Linked DNA regions of Homo sapiens: region 1 is linked to region 2. Evidence: fine-mapped expression QTL. Tissue or cell type: nucleus accumbens. Region 2 holds a variant in brackets; the other region holds the start of a gene. All regions are shown on one strand. Distances are from middle to middle.

What was found. PIP is the estimated chance that this variant, and not a neighbour inherited with it, causes the effect.
Region 1: FIBCD1 starts here. The variant in region 2 is fine-mapped to the expression of FIBCD1 in nucleus accumbens (GTEx, PIP 0.93).

The regions. Positions count from the first base shown.
Region 1 is chr9:130,933,915-130,944,718 of GRCh38, forward strand. FIBCD1 (fibrinogen C domain containing 1) reads right to left here and starts at 5,333. Exons shown (of 7, transcript NM_032843.5): 1 at 4,622-5,333. The coding sequence starts at 4,693. It overlaps FIBCD1-AS1 (FIBCD1 antisense RNA 1), which reads left to right and starts at 6,432. Exons shown (of 3, transcript XR_930398.3): 1 at 6,432-6,528; 2 at 10,366-10,458. RefSeq lists enhancers at 5,035-5,965, 7,411-7,630 and silencers at 5,210-5,419, 7,188-7,482, 9,399-9,572.
Region 2 is chr9:130,887,360-130,896,903 of GRCh38, forward strand. It overlaps QRFP (pyroglutamylated RFamide peptide), which reads right to left and starts at 9,453. Exons shown (of 3, transcript NM_198180.3): 1 at 9,218-9,453; 2 at 8,338-8,622; 3 at 5,348-6,479. The coding sequence starts at 6,479. The coding sequence ends at 6,069. ABL1 (ABL proto-oncogene 1, non-receptor tyrosine kinase) reads left to right here. Exons shown (of 11, transcript NM_005157.6): 11 at 1-316. RefSeq lists a silencer at 1,163-1,457 and enhancers at 6,271-6,785, 7,574-8,261, 8,262-8,948. The variant G/A (reference allele first, on the strand shown) is at 5,004.

The DNA of each region.
Region 1 (10,804 bases), 47 kb after region 2:
GACCCAGGTGAGTGCCCCTCCTGCCGCCCACCCCCATCTCCTAAGAGCACCCAGCCCAACGCAGGCAGCTGTTCTGCATGACAAAAACACATCCTGGGGCTTTGCACTGGGAAATGGAAAGCTGAAGGTGGCGGGGTCCTGTGGGCTCTGGATCCAGCAGAGGCTTGCACAGAGCCTGGGCAGGGGGCTTATGGGCTCTGTGGGTTGAGGGGACTGGGCCCTGCCTCAGGCCAGAGCCTCAGGGGAATTCCTCCTGTCTCCCCAGGAGCCCACTCTGCTCCCGGCTGGCACATGGCTGGGCACATGGCTCCCAGTAAGGGCTGAACTCTGAGCCCTGGCCCTGGCAGAGGGAGGGTCCCAGAGACTCCCCTGGGGGTGAAGGGTTGGTGGCTCTGCTCACCATTCTGGGGTCCCAAAGACTTAGGAAGGGGGTCTGCAGGCTTGTTCTGTGAGATCTGAGCGGGAACCGCCATACCGCTGGGGACCCTTCAGCAGAACCCTGCCGAGGGCCATCTGGCGTCTCAGGCCACAGGGAGGGGCGCAGGAGGGGCTGAAGGTGTCCAAGGGGACAAGAGCGCCCCACAGAGCTCCCAGCCTCTGCCCCTCCGGGAGGTTCCAAGCCCCCCAGCTGTCTCACTTCCTGGGAGCATTTGCTCTGAACCACGGAGGGGGCTTCTCCAGATGTTTCCTATAAGGGTCTTGCCCACCCTCCCCGCGACATACAGCTCTGGCCTCCCAGAGGGCCCACTGGGGCCTCAAGCCCACTGAGGCCCAAACCAGCGTCTCTCCACCCCAAACCTGAGCCCTCCTATTTTTCACTCGGGGATGGCACCAACCCTACCTGTTGCCCCCACAAAGCTGGCACCTCCTCAGGTCTCCCTCCCTCACCCAACATCTGGATAGTCACCTGCTCCTGTCCATTCTACCTCCTCAGCCACACCACTCCCCAGCTAAACAGTGAGCTCAGAAGGAGGGGCTTGGGAAACCCCAAGCCTAGCACAGTGACCTCAACCCAAACCCCAGGGAACAAGAAGAAAGAGGCATGGATCTTCCAGAACCCATGATGGTTTGCAATCGCCCCGACCTGTGAGTTTGTTCCCCCCGTGAGACTCTAAGCTCCCTGAGGCACAGACTGTATCCACCAGACTATACCTCCTAGCATTAGGTAGGGCCTCCCTAAATAGTCACTGAGTAAATTTAATGCAGCAGGGATTTAGGTTAGACATCAGGAAGAACTTCCCAAAGAGATTTTCTTTCTTCCTTTCTGAAATGTTCTTAGAAATTTTGAAAGCGTCAAGAGATCTTGCCTGGGATGGGTTGGAAGTTGACCTCCCTGTAGGGTGGCTTGGAGACAGCTCAGAAACAAGCCCCTCTGACCAGAGGAAACGGTTGCAGAGTGACTTCCTGCCCCAAGCTCCAAGACCAGAAGAATCATGTCTATTTCTAGATCCTTTCATCTGACAAACTCCAAACTCCTGGCAAATACCGTTTCACCCTGCCCCAAGGGCGTGAGAGGCTCCTCCTTCTGTAGGGAGAGGGAGGACGCATTAACAAAGTCCAAATCGGCAACTTGTCCAAGGTCGCCCGACAAAGAGTAGCTGAGGCTGGATAGGGCTGGGACAGATGGGGCCCAAGGCGTTTCCCAGAAATGGCTGCACTTGGACAAAGGTCCTTCAGGACCTCCGGACCTGGGCTATACCCACTCACAGCGGGTGATTTCGGTACCCTGAGAACCACACAGCCTGGACACTGCAGTCCCAACTGGGGCTGAGTGGGCTGAACCAAGAAAGGGCGGCCAGCCACCCCTTAGGCACTTGTCTGCTGTCCAAGAAGACCCAGGTTTGAGTCCCAGCTCCAGCTCTTAGTCTCAGTTTCCTCATCTGTCAAATGGGTTCATCACTCCTGCCACCAAGCTCCTAGGGTGGCTGTGACTAAGAAATGAATCTTAGTCGTGGCCTGTGACCTACTGGTGCTTGGAGTGCGGCGTCAGCGTTATGCTCCCAGAGGAAAATCCCCGTTAAAGAACCTCGGCCAGGCCCCGTTTGTAGGAACCAGATGTTCAGATGGCGTTTCCTGGGGGGCAGAGAGGAGACCGGGACACAGCCAGCCTGTGGAAGGGACAGGCTGCTGCGAGAGGCATCCTCCTCATGAGTACACAGTGCTTTGCAGTTTGCAAAACACACCAGTATGTCACGTGGCCCCCATAACAGCCCTTGTGAAATGAGGAGGAAGCGAAGATTGCTGTTCCCACTTTACAGATGGTGAAGCCCAGGCCCAGAGAGGAGGAGTAACTTACCCAGGGCCACACAGCATGTCAGTGGGTGAGACAAACCTGGCCACAAGGGAGGAGAGAAGGCTGGCCCAGGAGAGGGCAGGCCCAAGGGAACCAGGGCAAGCAGTGTTCTCTCTTTCTTCTGACAGTGGCCACAGGAAAGGCCTTGCCTCTTGTCTGAAGCTTCAAACAAGCCCAGAGCTGGCACAGGGAACAGCCTGTCTACATGCTGGGTCACCAAACGGGCGGGGAGGGGAAGCGGGTGCTTGCTATTGGCCCAGGCTCTTGGAGCAACAGCCCTCGAGCTTCCTCCAATGCCAAGGGGCAGACAGCTGGGCTGTGTGGGGGCTGAAAGCTGTGCCCCCAGGGAGCAGCAGAGGAAGGCGGGGCCCGGCCTGGAGGCCTTGAAGCCACATTTCAAACACATTCCCCAGAAGGCACCTCCCCTTGAGACAGACCAGTGCCTGCTGGCCGTCTCCTGAGGCTCTTCCTGGCCGAAGCGTCATGCAGTGCCATTCAGCAAACGCTCTCAATGCCTGACCTGAGCTGCCTGGAAAGAATGGAGCTTGGGCCCAGGGAGAGATGCAGAGATGGGCTCCAGAGGAGGGTGTGTCCAAAGGGATCTCCTGATGCAGGAGGGGCCCAGGACAAGGCAGCTGAGTGGCACAGGCTAAACACTACTAGAACTTAGAGACATAGCCACAGGGCATCAGGAAGTCTTCCTGGAGGAGGTGGCAGCATTTGAGCTTGATTTTGAGTATATGTAGGGTGTCCCTGAGTGAAGGGGTGTGTGTGTGTGTGTGTGTGTTTGTGTAAGGCTGGGGAAGCAAACAAGATGACACAGAAAAGATCTGGAAATGGAGCGGCGTGGTGTGGGGCCCAGGGTTGGCAAATAACAAACAGTCACTGCCTGTAAGGGACCAATGGGAAGGCACAGTATGCCAGGTTAGGGATGGCCTTGGAGGACAGGTCTAGAAGTTAAGACAGTTCTTGCTAAGGGGGAGAAGTCAGATCTCAGCAGGAGGGGACTTGTTATTTTGGGGTGGCTTAGGTGCAGACCTGACCTAAAAGAGGGGCGCGACCACCCCGGAGAAGCAGTGGGATAGGTGTGTGGTTAGACCAGAGTTTGAATCCCCACTCTCTTGCCAACGTGCTGTGTGACTTGGGCATGTTCCGAACCTCTCTGATCCCTGGTCTGTGATGTGGGAACGCACTGGCCCCCAGCCTGTTTGGAGAAGTGAGGTAGTGCCGATGAATGGGAAGGGGCTTTGCAAACCGCAGAGGGCTGGGCCCTTGTGCCACGGCAGTGTCACACCAGGAAGAATGAGCAGGTTGCAGCTCCTGAGAGGAAGGGACCACCAAGGGCTGCCCGTGCCGCCCCCTCCTGCAGCTGCAAGCACGAACTGTTCCTTCCCCAATGACATCTGTCTGGAAGAAATTTAAAATTTAAAATGGGCAGCCCTATTCTCTCCTCTCCTTGGTGAGCGAGCGGCCTCCTCGTTTTCGCCTGCCTGCCCCAGTCCCTTGGCAGCCCAGCCTGGGGCAGCCCTGGGGCTCCCCTCCGCCTTGGCTTCGGGACTCCAGCCCCCTTGCTGGCCAGCCCAGGTGTTCTGCCCTCACCCGCTTCCACCGCACAGCCCTGGGCACCCTCCAAGCCCCACCTCCACTGCCCCTGAAGAGGCAGCAGGAAGGGAGGAATGAGTCAGCCCTGGAGCACACAGACAAGGGTTCAAATCCCGACAGAGCTGCGTGGCCTCAGGCAGGAGCCAACCATCTCTGAGCCCTGCTTTCCTTGTCTTAAAGTCAGAAAATCACAATACCCAGCGTTCCTGCAGGAGATGAATCTTTATTGATCCCCTACTGTATGCAGGGCCCTGGCTAAAGGGAAGGATGCAGAGGAGATTCAGGGGGTCAGGTTCAGGACCAGGTGCCTGGCACAGGGTAGCGCCCAGAGTGGAGATTCTGTGGGTAGTTAAGATGCCCATTGTAGAGGTGAGGAAACGGAGACTCAGCAACGGGGCTGATTTGTCTGTGGACACACAGCGAACTGTAAGTCCCCGCCTCCCTCTGCACCCGCGTGCACCAGGGGGCTGCTGGGGGTGCGGGGACGCGGGAGACCTGGCCCGCAGCGCGCGTGGCTCCTGCAGGGGTGCCGCCCCCACCGAACCTCGAGTTCAAGCCTCGGCTCGGGGAGGAGGAGAGGAGGGTCCCCATCCCGGCCCGGGCCTCCGGAGCCTCGAAGGGGTGCGCCCCAAACTCCAGCCCCCGCAATGGGTGCTCGCCCCGCCGGCCCGAGCGGCCACCGCCTGGCCAGCCGCCCAGGCCCCGTGTCCCAGCGCCCGAGCGTACCTGCGGCTTGTCGCGCGGCCGGTCCTCAAGTTGGGCAGCGCCGCCCATGGTCTTCCACCGGTCGTTGACCATCTTCCGGCAGGACTGGCGGGGGCGCCGGGCGAGGCGCGCCGCTGCGGAGCGCAAAGGAGACGGGGTGGGCGCGGGCGCGGGCGCGGGGCGCGCTCTGTCCGCCGGGTCCCCGCCTCTGTGCCCCGCGCCGGGGCGGCCCGGGAGCGGGCGGGCGTGTGAGGATGAGCGCGCCGCTGTGTGCGGGCGGGAGCAGGAGCGGGAGCGCGAAAGCCGCCAGCCCAACGCCCGCCGCTCGCGCTGCGCGCCGTCCCCGCTCCCGGCTCCGGCGCCTCCCCGGCGCGCTCCTCTCTCTCCTCCCTCGTCCCTCCTCCCTCCTTCTCAATCTCCGCATCTTTTCTGGTCTCGGACTCTCTTTGCTTTTTATTGCTCCCCTCGGCCTCCCCCGACACACTCACACACACGCGCGCGCTCACACCCGCGGACTTGGATACTAAACTCCGCCTCCGAAAAGACCTAGGGAAAGGAGGCCGAACTGGCCCCCAGATAACGCGGCCGGCCGGAGGGCAGCAAACAGCCGCGGGCGGCCCGGCTCCTGCTGGCTCCCGGAGGGGCCTGAGAGCCCCCCGGCGGCGCCTCTGCACAAACTTCCTCCCGGACCGGACTCACACAAGTCACCATGCGCGGGGCGGGCCCCGAGGGCGCCCCCGCCGGCCGGTTCGGCGTCTCCGGGGAGTGGCGCGGCGCTCCTTCCGGCTCCCTCCCGGCTCAGGACGCAGGGCTCGCCCCAAGACCCAGGCTGCGCCGGGGGCAGTTTCGGTGGGGTGCGCCCCCTGCGGGCCCCCGAGGTCTGGGTCCAGGTCCCGGGGCAAGTGCGCCCAGCTGTGGGGTCTCCAGCCCCCGGGGACCTCCCTGCGCCGGACCCCGACGCGTGAGCCTGGCCGGTGGGCGTCCCAGTCCGCGTCCGCAGACCCGTGCCCTCGCGCCCGCGGTCGGAAAGCCCACACGACGCCCCCTTGCCCGGGCGGCCCGTGGGCGAAATGGGGGTCCCCACCACTGCCACAGCCGCCGGCGCTGTGGTCGCGAGTACCAGCCGCTCCGCGCTCGGCCGCGCTCCCGGCCGATCGCCCGCGCTCCCCGGCGCGCCCCGCGTGGTCCCAGCCCCCGCCTTCTCCTCCGCCGGGAGGGGATTTGTGCCAGGAGGGGGCTTCTTAGTTGCCCCTTCCCACCAGCAGCACTTTTAAAAGCATTTAATCCGCCCGGAGCGGCCTTCGGAGGTAATTGACAAAGTCCTTAATCTGCGCGGCGAACGAGCTGCTATTGTGGCTTCTGACCGGGAGGCGCCCACACTGCCCGACGCCGCGCTCCCCTCCCGCCGCCCCGCCGAGCCCGCCGGCCGCCCCTCCTCCGCCCCTTTCTGCGTCCCCATCTTTTTCTGCTCCCCCAGCTCCAGACAGACCCCCGTTCCCCGCCCCCGCTTCTCCCCAAAGCTGTTTTCCGGCTCCCGGGGCGCCTTGGCCGCCGCGCTGTTCCCTGGCACCGTCTCCGTCTCTCCCCCACTGGCTGCCAGTCTGTCGCCCCATCTTCGTCCCTCTCCCGATCCCTCTACGCGTCCGGCACTGGCGGGGCAGACTGGTTGGGGGTGGGGGCCGCGTCCAGCCTGGGCTGGGGCACTCCCTGGACCCCGGAGCGGGGGACCCTGTGGCCCGGTGCCATCCGAGGAGACTGCCACCCGCCAGGCGCTGGGTTCACAAACCACCGGCTGTTTGTCCCCAGCCGCCTTTTCCTTCCAGGACAACCGCTGGCCTCACCTACGGCCCGATCCCGGCTTCCCGGACTGAGGCTGCCCGGGAGTTGGAGAGGATCCCACAGCAATGGCTGGGAGTCAGGAGACCCAGGTTCCAATTCTGGCCTCTGGCCCTTTCTGGCCCCTCGGCCTTTCCTATGAATTAAGAGGGTCAGCAGGTGATCTAGAGGGCCCTCAGACTTGGGAAGAAGGATGTGGTGGAGGGCACAGGGCCCTGGCTGTGTGGCTGAGGGCAAGCAACATACCTCTCCGAGCCTCAGTTTCCCCATGTAAGCCAAAGGGTTGACTGCACACGCTTCAGAAGGGCTCTGCCACAGTGCATCACAGCACCTGAGCAGGGCAAGGCTCAGATGTTCCTGCTGTGACCTTGGGCAGATTCCACGTCATCCCCAAGCCTCAGTTTCCTCGTAAACAAGGACTTGCCTATTGGTGGGGAGTGGCGAGGTTTGCAGGCCCTTGTGCAGTTACAGGCACAAAGCGGGCAGGTGGCGGAAATGCAAGGCTCTGACTCCACAGTTTGGCGAGAGGATGTAAACTCCAGACGCATTTGTGCACAGATGAAAGATCACCCTGGGGGGTGGAGCGGGGGTGGGGGGCTGAACTGAGAACCCACGGGAGGGGTGCTAAGGACCAACGGAGGAGGTCTTGGAGATGTGCTCAGAGTAGTCAGGGAGGCATCCTGGGATGGAGGGGTGTGAGCCCGCCCCCAAGGCCCATGAAGGCAGCATCCAGAAGTCTGGGTGCTGAAGGAAAGGCATTTCCAATGGCGGGGCCGCAGAAGGGAAGGCGGAGCTAGGGGAGTGACCCGGGCGTACCTGGGCAGGTGCAAACCGGAGGACCGGAGGACGCTCTGGAGGATCGCCTCCCGGGCCTGCAGAAGCGCGGTTGGACAGGTGAGCGGGGGCCACCTAGCGGCTCCTGCTGGGAGTGTTGGAGGAGGTTGGAGGTTGAATCATCTCACCTGCTCAGCCACAGGTTCAGCCTGCGGGAGTGCCTTACGTGTGTGTCTTCGGGAGCGGGCCTCACTCTGTCACCCCCTCTGTGCTGACGCCTCTGCTCAACACCCCAGGAGAAGGGTCAGCCGTGATGCAGGACTGGCATGAGCCTGCAGGCGTCTGCTCAGCGCTTTACACACTGCACTCAGCAGACACACTTAGGACATCGTTCTGGAAGAAGGGAGGGCCGCCCCCATTCACTGGAGCCTCCGAATTGGTGGAGAGGAATAAAATGGAAGTGGATCCCAGAAGCCAGTGCTGACCCACAGCCAAGATCTGTGCGAGAGAAAGGGCAGCCGACCCCACAGAGCAGACAGGCCCTCCACCCTCGGATTTCCCTTTGACAAGGCTGATGACCACAGAGCACTGGGGGCGAGCTGGGCTGTGCTCAGCAGGTGGGACAGGACAGAATCAGGGCTTTCCAGCCAGCCCAAGACTGAGCATTCCTTGTCAGGGACGAGCCAGCACCTCAGGGTGCCAGAACACAGGACCGGGAGGCTGCATGGTATTAGACTCGAGGTTGCCTGGTAACTTGTTCACTCTCTGCGCATCCCCTCACCTTCCTCTTTCTGGCTCACCAATTCTGCCTGTTCCTACTTTGCCTTTCCAAGGCCACCTGGATATGATGGCCCCACCAATGGGCAACTCCTATCTAGGACTGAACCAGGCATATCAATCATAAGTGGCAGATGGCCAAAGACAGCTGTCCTTGGTCAGGTACCAACCCATCAGACCTTGGTCAGGTCCAATGTGGGGGCATGGCTGCTGGGGCCCTAATGCAGGACCCCTCCCTTAGCAGGGAGTGGGTGCAGGGCAGGCAGTACGGCGACATGGGAGGGGTGGAAAAATAGTCCATGGGGAGACAAGGAAGAGCAGCAAGGGACATAGGGGGACAACATTCAGGGTGCCAGCCGTGACCAACAGCCACCTGTTGGAAGCACCCTCACGCTCAGCGCTGTGCTGGGCACCTCATATCCTCCCAGCCCCCTAATAAGTGAATACTATTGTCCCCACTTTGTGGATGAGGAAACTGATTCAGAAAGGTAAATTACATGACCTGGGTAATTGTGTAATTAATAAGATGATACGATCAATATGGGGCCAGGCACAGTGGCTCACACCTGTAACTCCAGCACTTTGGGAGACCGAGGCAGGTAGATCATCTGAGATCAGGAGTTCGAGACCAGCTTGGCCAACATGGTGATACCCCATCCCTACTAAAAATACAAAATTAGCAGGTGTGGTGGTGCACTCCTGTAATCCCAGCTACTCCGGAGGCTGAGGCAGGAGAATCACTTAGAACCTGGGAGGCAGATGTTGCAGTGAGCCGAGATCGTGCCACTGCACTCCAGCCTTGGCGACAGAGTGAGACTGTCTCAAAAAAAAAAAATCAATATGGAATTACCATTTACCAAACATTTCCATGTGCTGGATACAGCAATACCATTAACAATACCATCTTATTTCAAGTAATCCTCACCCAAGACCTGTAAGTGTTATTAATAGCCTCATTTTCTAGATGAGGCAACAGAAGCTCAGAGAGGTTAAGTAACTCAATCAAGACCACACAGCCATTGGTGGGGCAGAATTTTTTTTTTTTTTTAACACGGAGTCTCGATCTGTCGCCAGGCTGGAGTGCAGTGACGCAATCTCGGCTCACTGGCTCTCTGCAACCTCTCGGGTTCAAGCGATTCTCCTGCCTCAGCCGCCCAAGTAGCTAGGACTACAGGCACACGCCACTACGCCCAGCTAATTTTTGTATTTTTAGTAGAGACAGGGTTTCACCATGTTGGCCAGGATGGTCTCGATCTCTTGACCTCATGAATTGCCCACCTCAGCCTCCCAAAGTGCTGGGATTATAGGCATGAGCCACTGCGCCTGGCCGGTGGGGCAGAATTTGAACCCTAGTGTGTGCACTTCCAGAGACTATCTCTCTTTCTTCAATACCTCGGTGCCTCTTCGTCTGCCAGAGCTGGGCCTGAGCCACCCGGTGAGCGTGCTGAGCCAGCATGCAGCAGGGCTTAGCGGACGTGGGCAGAATAGCCAATGTGCCAGTCTCTCGGGGCCTGGGGGACTGGCTGGCCAGAAGGTCGGGACCTCTGGTCCCCATCCACTCAGCCTCTGCCCCGCACTGCCAAGGGTACTCAGCTCTCGCCATAAAGCTGTTTCAACTTGACTCTGACAGTCACATTTATCATTAAAAATAAATGTATCTTGGCTTCTGTGGCGTGGAAAACTACTGTGCAGTGATTCAATGGGCTTGTCACCCCTCACGGTTAGGCACGGGGAGCTGAATGACTGGATGGTCTCCAACGCCAGCTCCTCATTTTCTGCGGCTGGAGCCAGAAATGTACAGTGGGCTGACATTTAATTTAGAATCCAACATACCTTGACATAAACCCATAATACAAAGGCGGGGGTGGGGGTGGGGGCTGCCAAGCCTGGTCGGGGTCGGGGGGGAGTCCAAGTGACAGGGCGAATTTCTTTCTTTCTTTCTTTTTATTTTGCTTTGTCAACATTGAGTGGTGATGACAGACGAGAGGCCGTGATCAAAGGCGAGAATTAGCACGGAGAGAATGTGTGTGAGTGTGTGTGTGTGTGTGTGTGCAGCCTGTGTGTCAATTCATGGGTGCATGGGTGGTGCGTCTGTGCCCTGAGCCCACTGGGATGCTGTGTGTGGCATCTTGCGATGTGTCCGAGGCTGGGCTGTCAAGACTGAGGCTAGAACCCCGGAGCAGGACAACGTGGTCACTCCGGGTGAGGACAGCACCTGCCAGTTCTGTCTTTGTGTCCCTAGCACTTACCGAAGGTCTTCTAACACAGTCAGTGCTCAATAAATGCAGAGCAGGAAGGGGAAACGTGATTTTAAAAGCTGGATGCAGAGTTCCTCTTAGGGAGAAAACTGGCTTTTTTTTTTTTTCTTTTTTCAGCAGAACATCCTGATGGACTATTTAGGTGTGAAAAGCAGAGGCTCAGGGGCTGACCTGGGAGGAGAAGCTGCAGGAAACCCAGCAAGAAATGCCCAGGTGGAGGGGTGGAGGGGTGGAGGGGTGGAAGGGTAGAGGGCTGGAGGGGTGGAGGGCTGGAGGGGTGGAAGAGTGGAGGGGTGGAGGGGTGGAGGGGTGGAAGGGTGGAAGGGTGGAGGGGTGGAAGGGTGGAGGGGTGGAAGGGTGGAGGGGTGGAAGGGTGGAGGGGTGGAGGGGTGGAGGGGTGGAGGGGTGGAAGGGTGGAGGGGTGGAAGGGTGGAGGGGTGGAGGGGAGAGAGCATGAGGTGGGGGGCAGAGTCCCCAGGCAGTTGGGATTCCGGGGAGGGACCACAGTGCTGGGAACCACAGCACTGACGCCATACACACCAGGGGATGTTTGCTCTTG
Region 2 (9,544 bases):
CTTGAAGACAGAGCAAAGCGCCCACCCAGGTCCCCCGACTGCCTGTCTCCATGAGGTACTGGTCCCTTCCTTTTGTTAACGTGATGTGCCACTATATTTTACACGTATCTCTTGGTATGCATCTTTTATAGACGCTCTTTTCTAAGTGGCGTGTGCATAGCGTCCTGCCCTGCCCCCTCGGGGGCCTGTGGTGGCTCCCCCTCTGCTTCTCGGGGTCCAGTGCATTTTGTTTCTGTATATGATTCTCTGTGGTTTTTTTTGAATCCAAATCTGTCCTCTGTAGTATTTTTTAAATAAATCAGTGTTTACATTAGAATTCTTGGCAGATTGCTTCGGCCTGTGATCCTGCCCTGTTGTTCTGAGCCTGTGCGGTGGCGGGGCCGGGATGTAGTGGGTTCTGGTTTCCCGACGGGGCTGGGGCCCGGCATCAGGTCTTACAGAGCAGAACGGTGGCAGGTTGCCCCCAGCTGCCCAGGGCCTCTGCGGCCTGGGTGCCCACAGCCATCTTTCAGGCACTTGCCCTGCTATGCTCGGACCCTTTCTGTACCCTTGGCGCTTACCTGCTGGCAGCCTGGCCCCACCGGCATCACTGGGAGTGGGCTGTGCCACCATACAAGCCACATCTGACTGGCGGTATCAGGCTGTCGCAGCGACGTGGAAGTGGGGTGAGGAGGTCACGTCCCGTGCTTCTTGCTGGCTGAGGGCAAATCCCTCCCCACGTGCGCCTGTTCTCTCTCCACCTTTCCGCCCTAAGCCCCCAGGTGCCCTTACTCACTCATGTTCCTTGAGCCAGGTGTCTTAGGTCTTTGTGTGGATGAGGAGGAGCGGAGGTGTGAGGTGTGCTGGGCCTTCAGGGCCTGGGAAGGCCATCCCAGACTGAGCCCCACCGCCCTTTCCCAGCTCAGTCCCCACCGAGCTGACAGCTTGGAAAGGGGCGGTTGGGAAGTGAGTAGCACCCTCTGATAATGATACTGATCAGGCCAGCAGGTTTGTCAGGGGTGCACATCCTGCTCAGCAGAGCATATGAAGATCACAGCTTGGTGAAGCTCCACTCGAGAGACCTGGAGCGAGACTGCTGTGCGGTGGGTGACAGGTGGAACTCCAGCCGGGCCGGGGCTGGTGGAGCCCACTGCGAGCAGTGCCAGGCACAAGATTCTCCCCCTCTCATTTCACAGGGACAAAACCAGGCTGGGGCCCCCAATTTCCTTGCCGGTTGAACCATAGCTGGCCACCAGATCCACCAAGCCTGGGGCTTCTCTTGTCCTTTGAATGGCTGCTTCTCCCAGGTCTGAACGAAGACATAGGACAACTCTGGTGACAGCCACAGCTGGTGGCCGCTTCCTCGTGTCAGATGTGGACGGTCACCCCGCCCTCCCAGCGCTAAGCGCTGAGACTGCGTGTCCAGAGTCGGCTCCTGCACGTGAGGCCAATTGGTCACACTGGGCCAGTGTGGAGGAAGACGCCTCTCATCTCCCAAATGGGGATCTTTCATGGGTGTCACCTGAGCTTATAGAGCTTAGTTTAGTCTAGCCATTCCAAGACAGTGGTTTCTTAACCTTTTCTAGGTCACAAAACCTCCTGAGAACCTAATGAAAACTGGATCCCAGCCCCAGAAAAATGCACCTGTGTGCACACACCCAGCAGTTTCCAGGTCATTTCAAGTCCTGCCTTCGAGGTCCATTGTTATTATTTACAAAACACCAGCCTAAGGTATTGGACATTTTCTTAAAAGGCCAGGCAAGGTGGCTCATGCCTGTAATCCCAACACTTTGGGAGGCTGAGGTGGGTGGATTGCTTGAGGCCGGGAGTTCAAGACCAGCCTGGGCAACATAGACCCCATCTCACAAAAAATACAAAAATAAGCTGGGTATGGTGGCACCTGTAGTCCAGCTACTCAGGAAGCTGAGGTGGGAGGATTGCTTGAGCCCAGGAGGTGGAGGTTGCAGCAAGCTATGATCGTGCCACTGGATTCCAGCTCCAGAGTGAGACCCTGTCTCAAAAAAAATTTTTTTTTCTTTTTTCTTTTTGAGACAGAGTTTCGCTCTTGTCTCCCAGGCTGGAGTGCAATGGCACAATCTCCGCTCACTGCAACCTCTGCCTCCTGGGTTCAAGCGATTCTCCTGCCTCAGCCTCCCGAGTAGCTGGGACTAGAGGTGCGCACCACCAGACCCGGCTAATTTTTGTATTTTTAGTAGGGACGGAGTTTCACCATGTTGGTCAGGATGGTCTCGATCTCTTGACCTCATGATCCGCCCACCTTGGACTCCCAAAGTGCTTGGATTACAGGCATGAGCCAGTGCGCCCGGCCCACCACTTTTTTTTTTTTTTTTTTTTTAAGACGAGTCTCACACTGTCGCCCAGTCTGTAGTGCAGTGGTGCCATCTCGGCTCACTGCAAGCTCCGCCTCCCAGGTTCATACCATTCTCCTGCCTCAGCCTCCCAAGTAGCTGGGACTACAGGTGCCCGACACCACTCCCGGCTAATTTTTTGTATTTTTAGTAGAGACGGGGTTTCACCATATTAGCCAGGATGGTCTCTATCTCCTGACCTCGAGATCCACCCACCTCAGCCTCCCAAAGTGCTAGGATTACAGGCATGAGCCATCGCACCCGGCCAAGCCCACCACTTTTTTTAATGAGAGAGTTTTTGTTACTGTCCTCCTCTGACAGGTAAGGAAGCTGAGAGGCTCAGAGATGTCAAGCAGCTCGGCCAAGGTCACACAACATGTACCAGCTGGTGCCTACCACGGCAGTCTAATCAGTAGACAGTGCAGACAGCCCCAACAGGACCAGGAGAGAACTGTGCCCAGGGCCGGATTTCTCCCTCCACAGTGGAAGAGAAGCAGCCAAGTATTACAGCCAGCCCAGCTCCTTGGGCCGCAGAGATCATCTCAGGAGGCCTTTCTAAACGGAGTGCCCTGGGGAAGCAAACTCTAAACGTCCTCGTACGAGAAGACATTAGGTGAGACCAGGCTGACCACAGTGTCCCTGTCAGCACTGCCCTCGTCCCTGGGGGTCACCTAATGTCTTGCTCCCCTGCCCCCACACTCCAGTTGATATCACTGCTGTAATCAGGGAAATCTCTGAGCTCTTTTTCTGGGAGGGCATTTCCGAGGGGCCAAGGAGCTGCGGATTGGAGGAGCACCAGCAGCACAGGGCATGCCCCTGCTCCCTACCCAGAAGCTGGAAAGTACCATGTCAGGTTTGGGGTCTTCAGTGAAATCTGTCAAGCAGCGTCTTTGGCACTGGGGCAAAGTTAGGATGAGGTGGCTTCCCTCTTGATTACTACAGCAGCTGTCTATGGCTGACTGTCCCCAGGAGCCTGTTTTGTTTGGGGTTTTTTCTTAAATATTTTTATTAGTATTTCAAACATACAGGAAAAGACAAATGTTTTCCATTCATCTTGATAGCTAAATACCTTTAGATCTACACACCAAGATGAAGACCGCCTTGTGTCTTGGATAAATGTAACGAGCAGATGCTGGCAGCTCGCAGGTGCTCTGGGCTGGAGTAGTTAGAACTGCCGGGCCAGGTGGAGTGAGCCAGCACTGCTCAGGGGAGCTTCATCTCTCTGATTCCAAAATAAATGTTTTCTGGAGTCTCAACTTCACCCTCCTGGAGAGGGGTAATCTTATCTGTGGAGGAGAGAGCAAGGGCTGAGGGGGCGCTGGGGTGGCATGAGAGGCCCAAAGACCTTGACAGACACGGTGGGCTTGGCCGCGGGGCACCGGGTTAAAGAGGAGGCTTAGCCAAGCCCAGCGGGAGTTGATTTGACAGCAGTGCCCTTAGCAGCTTGATTGTTCGGATTTTCAGGGCTACTGAGCTCAAGTGTACAAGCAAACTGGAAAGAATAGCTTTGTTGGGTTTTTTAAAGTGATAAAAGCATAATGACAGCATATCCACTGCTTTGAAGGCATCCCCCGCCCCCGTGTTCTTTATCTCAGGTTTTTCCATCAAGGTTAATCTAATCCTGCTAAATTAACAACCAGCCAGTGCATCCCCAAAGAGCCTGTGGAATGTGCAGGGTGGCTCAGCCTCGGTGTTCTCTAAAGTACTGGCTGTGGGTGGCTCCTTGCTCACTTGCAGAAGTTGGCAAGTGACGAGTGGCCAGGGGACCGTGCGTCAGGGCGTCCCTCTGCCCTCAGCCTGCTGTGTTTCACCCGGTCTCTGGTGAGCACATCTCTGGCTGCTTTGCGTGAATGAGCCAAGGGAGGGATAGATCTAGCTTACTGCCTCCCCCTCCCTTAAGCCAAGCAGAATGGGGTGTGTGTGCACACCTGTGGTGAACGAATCTGTCCGTTCACCCTGTGCCAGGGCCGTCCTTACAGCAAGGACCCCGGGGATGTGTCCGTCCCCATCAGTGTCATGTTAGCAAGCAGTGACAACATCCCTTTGCAGGAGGCATCCTGAACCACTCTGTCCTCAGACAGTGGCAGAGCCCAAGAGAACAATGTGCCCCACCCCTCCACCAGCCTCAGGAATCATTGTCTTGTCCCCATCACAGCAGCCCTAAGACTCAGGGCACATGCGCCAAGCCTGGGGGGCTAGTTTCTGTGTGGGAAGCGATGGGGAAGCGGTGAGGAGCTCCTGGAGAAGGTGGCAGCTTTCATACCGGGTGATGTTCTGACTCTGGTGTTCTCTCCCATCTCAGCACCCATTCTGCTCCCCAGTCAGGTTGGTTCTTTGTGGCTCAGATCTGTCACCCCTTAATGAAGTGGCTTTCTGGCTGCCAAGGATTGAGAGCTGCTACTGAGGAGTATAAGTCACTAATAGCATGGAAAACACTGTGAAATACTCCAAGGTGCCAAGCTGGGCCCAGCCCAGTGTGGTTCTAAAAGGCTAATAAAAATCCACCAATTAATTGTGACAGCTCAATGGGAAATTATTCAATTGTGAACAGGGGCAAGCTGCAGCTCGAAAGGAGGAGGGGAGGGGTTGCCATAGTAACATCAATGTAAGTTCTCATCTCAGCAGCGGAAGCCAGCCCGGGAGTGAGCAGCATCC[G/A]ACCGCCGCCTCTGACACGGGATGGGATGCAGGAGACACCAAAGGCGCGTTTGAAACAGATGCTTTGCCTGGCCCCGGGCCTGCAGCCACTCCCGGCTGAGCGTGGGCTCTCCCCGGGGCAGAGAAGTTGTTTTCCGAATGTTCCTTGCTCTTAGGAAACCTGGGAAGGAGCAGCCGAGTGGAAGTGAAAAGCACATGTGCTGTGTTCCTCCGCCCCTTTGACCGACTGCCGGTTACAGGGATCTAGAGGAGGGGTGTTTGGGTCCAGTCAACAGGAGCTCCATCTCCCGAAAGGCAAGGCACCCAGAACTCAGACTGTGGGGGAGGCCAGCATTCCAGTATGGTTTTGCAGTTGTCACAACTTTTATTTGAAAAGATACACACGACATATTCTGATTTTGAACATGTGAAATGCAACCTTGCTATAGCAAAAACGGGATTCCTTCCCAACGCATCTCCCAGGAGACTCCTGGCCGGGCTAACACTGGGCCGCGGAGAAGGGCTGCGGTCAGAGGGGCAGGCAAACCACAGCAGGGGCTTCTTGCCAGGGGGATCTTGTGCTCATGGCATGGAGAAGGGGATCGGGTTCTTTTTTCCCATTTTTAACTTTCAGAACCATCCTCTGTACCCAGTGGAATGCACTCATTTGCACTCTGATGTCAGCCGCAGTCGTGCCTATAGAGACTGTCACAACTTTGATTACCCAACTGTAAGCACTCAGCCCGCTGCCTCGCTCTGCTATTCACACTCATGGCCCAGCCACAGCCTCAGCTCCGTGCCCCTGGGGCCAGGGGGCTGCTCGGAGTCAAAGCCCCAGGGGAAGAGAGAGGCTGGGACGACCGAGGCTCCAAGACAGCCTCCTTTTTGACACTGCCTAGTTTTTCGCTTCAGCAAAGTTGGAAATCAAAAGTAAGCACACACCTAACCTGTCCTACCATGGATCGTTCATCGTAACCAAGCCTACATCATCTGGGTGTCGTGGTCTTTGAGACTGGGGGAGAAGGCAGGAGTGAAGACAATGGGGGTGAGTCCAAGAAGCAAATCCTTCCAAGGCGTCCTGGCCCTTCACCGCCGACCGAAGCGGAAGCTGAAGCCGCCTTTCTTCCTGCTGTAGCCATTGAGCTCCTCAGCCAGGTTCCCTAACGGGCCGCTGGTCTTCTCCCCCGCAGCAGGGAGGAAGCCGGTGGCCTCACTGCCTTCGTCCTGCCTCCCGAAGCGGAATCTGCAGCCAGCATGCTCTCTGCCCGATGTCTGCAGCCCCCTGGCTATGACAAGCAGGGCCTGTGGCTGTGAAGCTCTCAGCCACCGAGAGGAACCCCACACGGAGTGGGGTCGGGGCCCCATGGCCAGGTCGGCCCAGCGTTCTCCAGCTCCGAGGCCACCCATGGCGTCTGTGGGCTCTCTTCTGTCCAGTAGAGGGAAGCAGGCGCCCAGCGGCAGGAAGAGGAAGTAGATCAGGGGGTAAGGCCTTACCATCTGACCCAGAGGAAAGAGAGGCAGAGTGACAGGCTGCACACGTGGCCAAGCGCAACTCACCAAAATGTTTCCCCGGGACAGGCTGGCAGCGTAGATGTGAGCAGGGGGCTCAGCTGAGCCCGGCTTCCGAGCAGTGCTGGGACTAGGCCACTGTTTTATTAGCAGGATCAGGAGGTGATTGTGCCAGTTAGGCCGGTTCTTCTCCTGCAGTCCCCACGATCTGCGTGCCTGGGCAGCTTAGCACCGTAAATCCACCGCTGCTGGCTGGCAGAGCAGTGCCCAGGCGGCCCCGGGAGAGTCAGCAAATGTATGCTCATTTTTCTCTTATTATAAAATGGCCATATCATTGCAGAGCCATGGGGTGGAAAGTTAAAAGCATCAATCTCCCTTAGTGTTCAACTGGATAATAAATGGGTCTAGCTATGCTGTTTAGCTGGGACATCCTGCTAATGTCTCTTTCACGTGGGAACGAGTTGCTCCTGAAAGCCAGAAACAGATTGGATGGTCCTGGCCTAATTCGGACACCCACCTGGGAAGGAGTGTGTGGACACCACTGGGGCCTGGGCACCGTAGGTCTGCCAGGCTCTGAGCCAAGAGCTCACACATGTGATTGTACTTCATCTTCATAGTACTCCTGCTTGGTAGGTCCGGCCAGTCCCACTTTTTCAGGCAACAAAACTGTCAGAAAAACTGAGATTGTGCCCAGGCCACACAGCCAGAAAGTGGAGGCTCTGGATTCATGATTCTAATGGCCAGACGGCTTCTTCAAGAAGCATACATATCTGCTAGGTACTCCCAACCCTCCTATTTCACAGGGGTGGTGTCGGTCTCAAACAGCTGAGGTGACTTGCCCCAGATCTCATGGCCTTATCAGTGCCAGAGCTAGAGTTCAATCCCAGGTCTAACTGGGCTTGACTCAGGAAGGCGTGCCCTAACTCCCTCCTCTGTACTCCACATGGCACTCGGGGGATCTGAAACCCAGCCTCCTGTAATGAACCTGCCTTGGTAACACTTGCTCCCTTGTCTGGCAAAGAAAACCTTTTTGACAATGACCGCGGGGGAGCTGGAGCTGGCTTGTCCTCCGCAGAGTCAAACTGAGGCTAGACTAGAGAGCACCGGCCCTGGAGAAGACAGTACAGGAGTCCCCAGAGCCCTTTCCAGAAATGGCTCCCTCGAACACATTTCAAAGAAGCGAGCTCAGCCAGGAAGCTTTTAAAAAAATAATACATGCAACCCCACTTTCTACCCAAATCCAGTTCTTCTAAGCTTTCGTCCCCCAGGGATGGAGTGACCTCCCTCATGCTGCCAGGAAAACCTTTCCATCAGGGCGCAGGCAGAGTGGGGGCTTCCACGAGGTGACTTTCTGCAGCGGCCCAGCCCATTCCCTCCTCCCCATAGGAAGCACTTTGCTGACTGCGATGTGGACCAGGGACCGTTGCATCCTGGTGGATAAATCCACCCGGGAGTGGCCTCTGGGTGTCTAGAAAGGAGACAGCCTGACAGAGCAGGCCCTGGAGTGGCCCTTCACCCCTTTTAGGGGTTCATGCACCCCTTCAAGAATCTGGTAGAAAGTGGGGATGCTCATCACGGGACAGGCGGCCCCAGCGCGAGTCAGGGCTTCAGGCCCCACAGCCAGGAAGGGACAGGAAAAGCACGGGTGAGGCTGGGTCCCAGCCCTGGCAGGGCAGCCGTGACCAATCTGTGCTGCTCTGGGCTGTTGGCAGGGGAGGCACTGGTGTCCCCTCTCCGGGCACTCCCTCCCTGTGCTTCTGTGTGCCCTCTGACTGCCCATGCCTGGCTCCTGCCTGGGCAGGGCCTGAGCTGGGGTTCCTGCTGGGGACAGGGCAGCTATGCTCACCGTGTGGCTGGGACTGCTCCCAGGAAGGCTGGCTGGTGGATCGCTGGGCTCCGGGGCTGGGCTGGGCAGAGCTGCTCTGGGTCCTCGTCCAGGAGGCATGGCCCCTGGGCTCTCCCTGCTTTATATGGCCCGCGGTGCGCTTGCTGCTCTGCCGACTGCCTGCTGCGCATTCCTGACCCTGGGATTCCATTGGGGACGCTGTTGTTGAAGAGGGGCAGTGCTGACCGCGTTGATAAAAACAACCTCACACAGGATGTAGTCTGATGAGAGGGCAGGCGGGCTGCCCTTTGGAGGAGAGCAGACAGCATCATTAACTGCAAATTGCGGGCACAGACCCTCGAGTCCCTTGGCGGGGGTTCCAAGCCCACCCTTCACCCTAAGGGTCCTGCCTTTGCTGGGTTGGCACCTCACGCTCCGGAGAGGACATGGGGTGGGTGGACATCTACCCGACACACCTACTGCCCAGCTTGCAGGATGGCTTTCATGGGCAGGAAAGCCACAGACACCCATGAGGCCCGTGTTTCACAGGCACCGGGCTGCGCGGCTAAGCCAGGTGCACCTCCCCGGCAGGTGGAGCCCTCAGCGGCCTGTTACCCAGGAACCAACCAAGGGGGCACGGCAGATGCCCAGGACAGCAGTGGAGCATTTGCCTGTGGCCCCCAGCCCCTCCCACCGCATACCCTGGGTGGCCCCCTACTGTCACCGAGGGTCACCTCTGGGAGGCCAGCAGGAGGACCCAGCCTCTGCTCCTTGCCCGGCAGAGATTCTCCCTCCACTGAGAGCAGGCAGGGGGGTGATGAGGCAGCCCCACCCCACCACTGTCAGGAACTGAGCACAGAGGGCCTCCCCCATTCCAGGGGCCCTCACCCAGCCGACCTACCCCTGCATCCCGGCTGCTGGGGGATCAGAAGTCATGGGAATAGAGAGCCTGTGGACACTTCCCCAGAGACCTGAGGAAGGCACTGGAATCTCGATCCTCCACTTCGGGGCTGAGCGCCCAGGTTCGGGCGGAGGGTCTGCGGATTGAAGCCGATGACTGAGCTTTGCTGGCCAGAACCAGCTTCCATCCCCCAGGCCAGGGCTGCCTCCGATGGCCTGAGGTGCCCCTGTCCTGTGTGTGCATGTGTGTGTATGCCCCCACATGAGTATGTGCACACGTGCGTACACGTGTGTGTGCTCGTGAGACGGGAGGTGTGGTGTCCTTCTG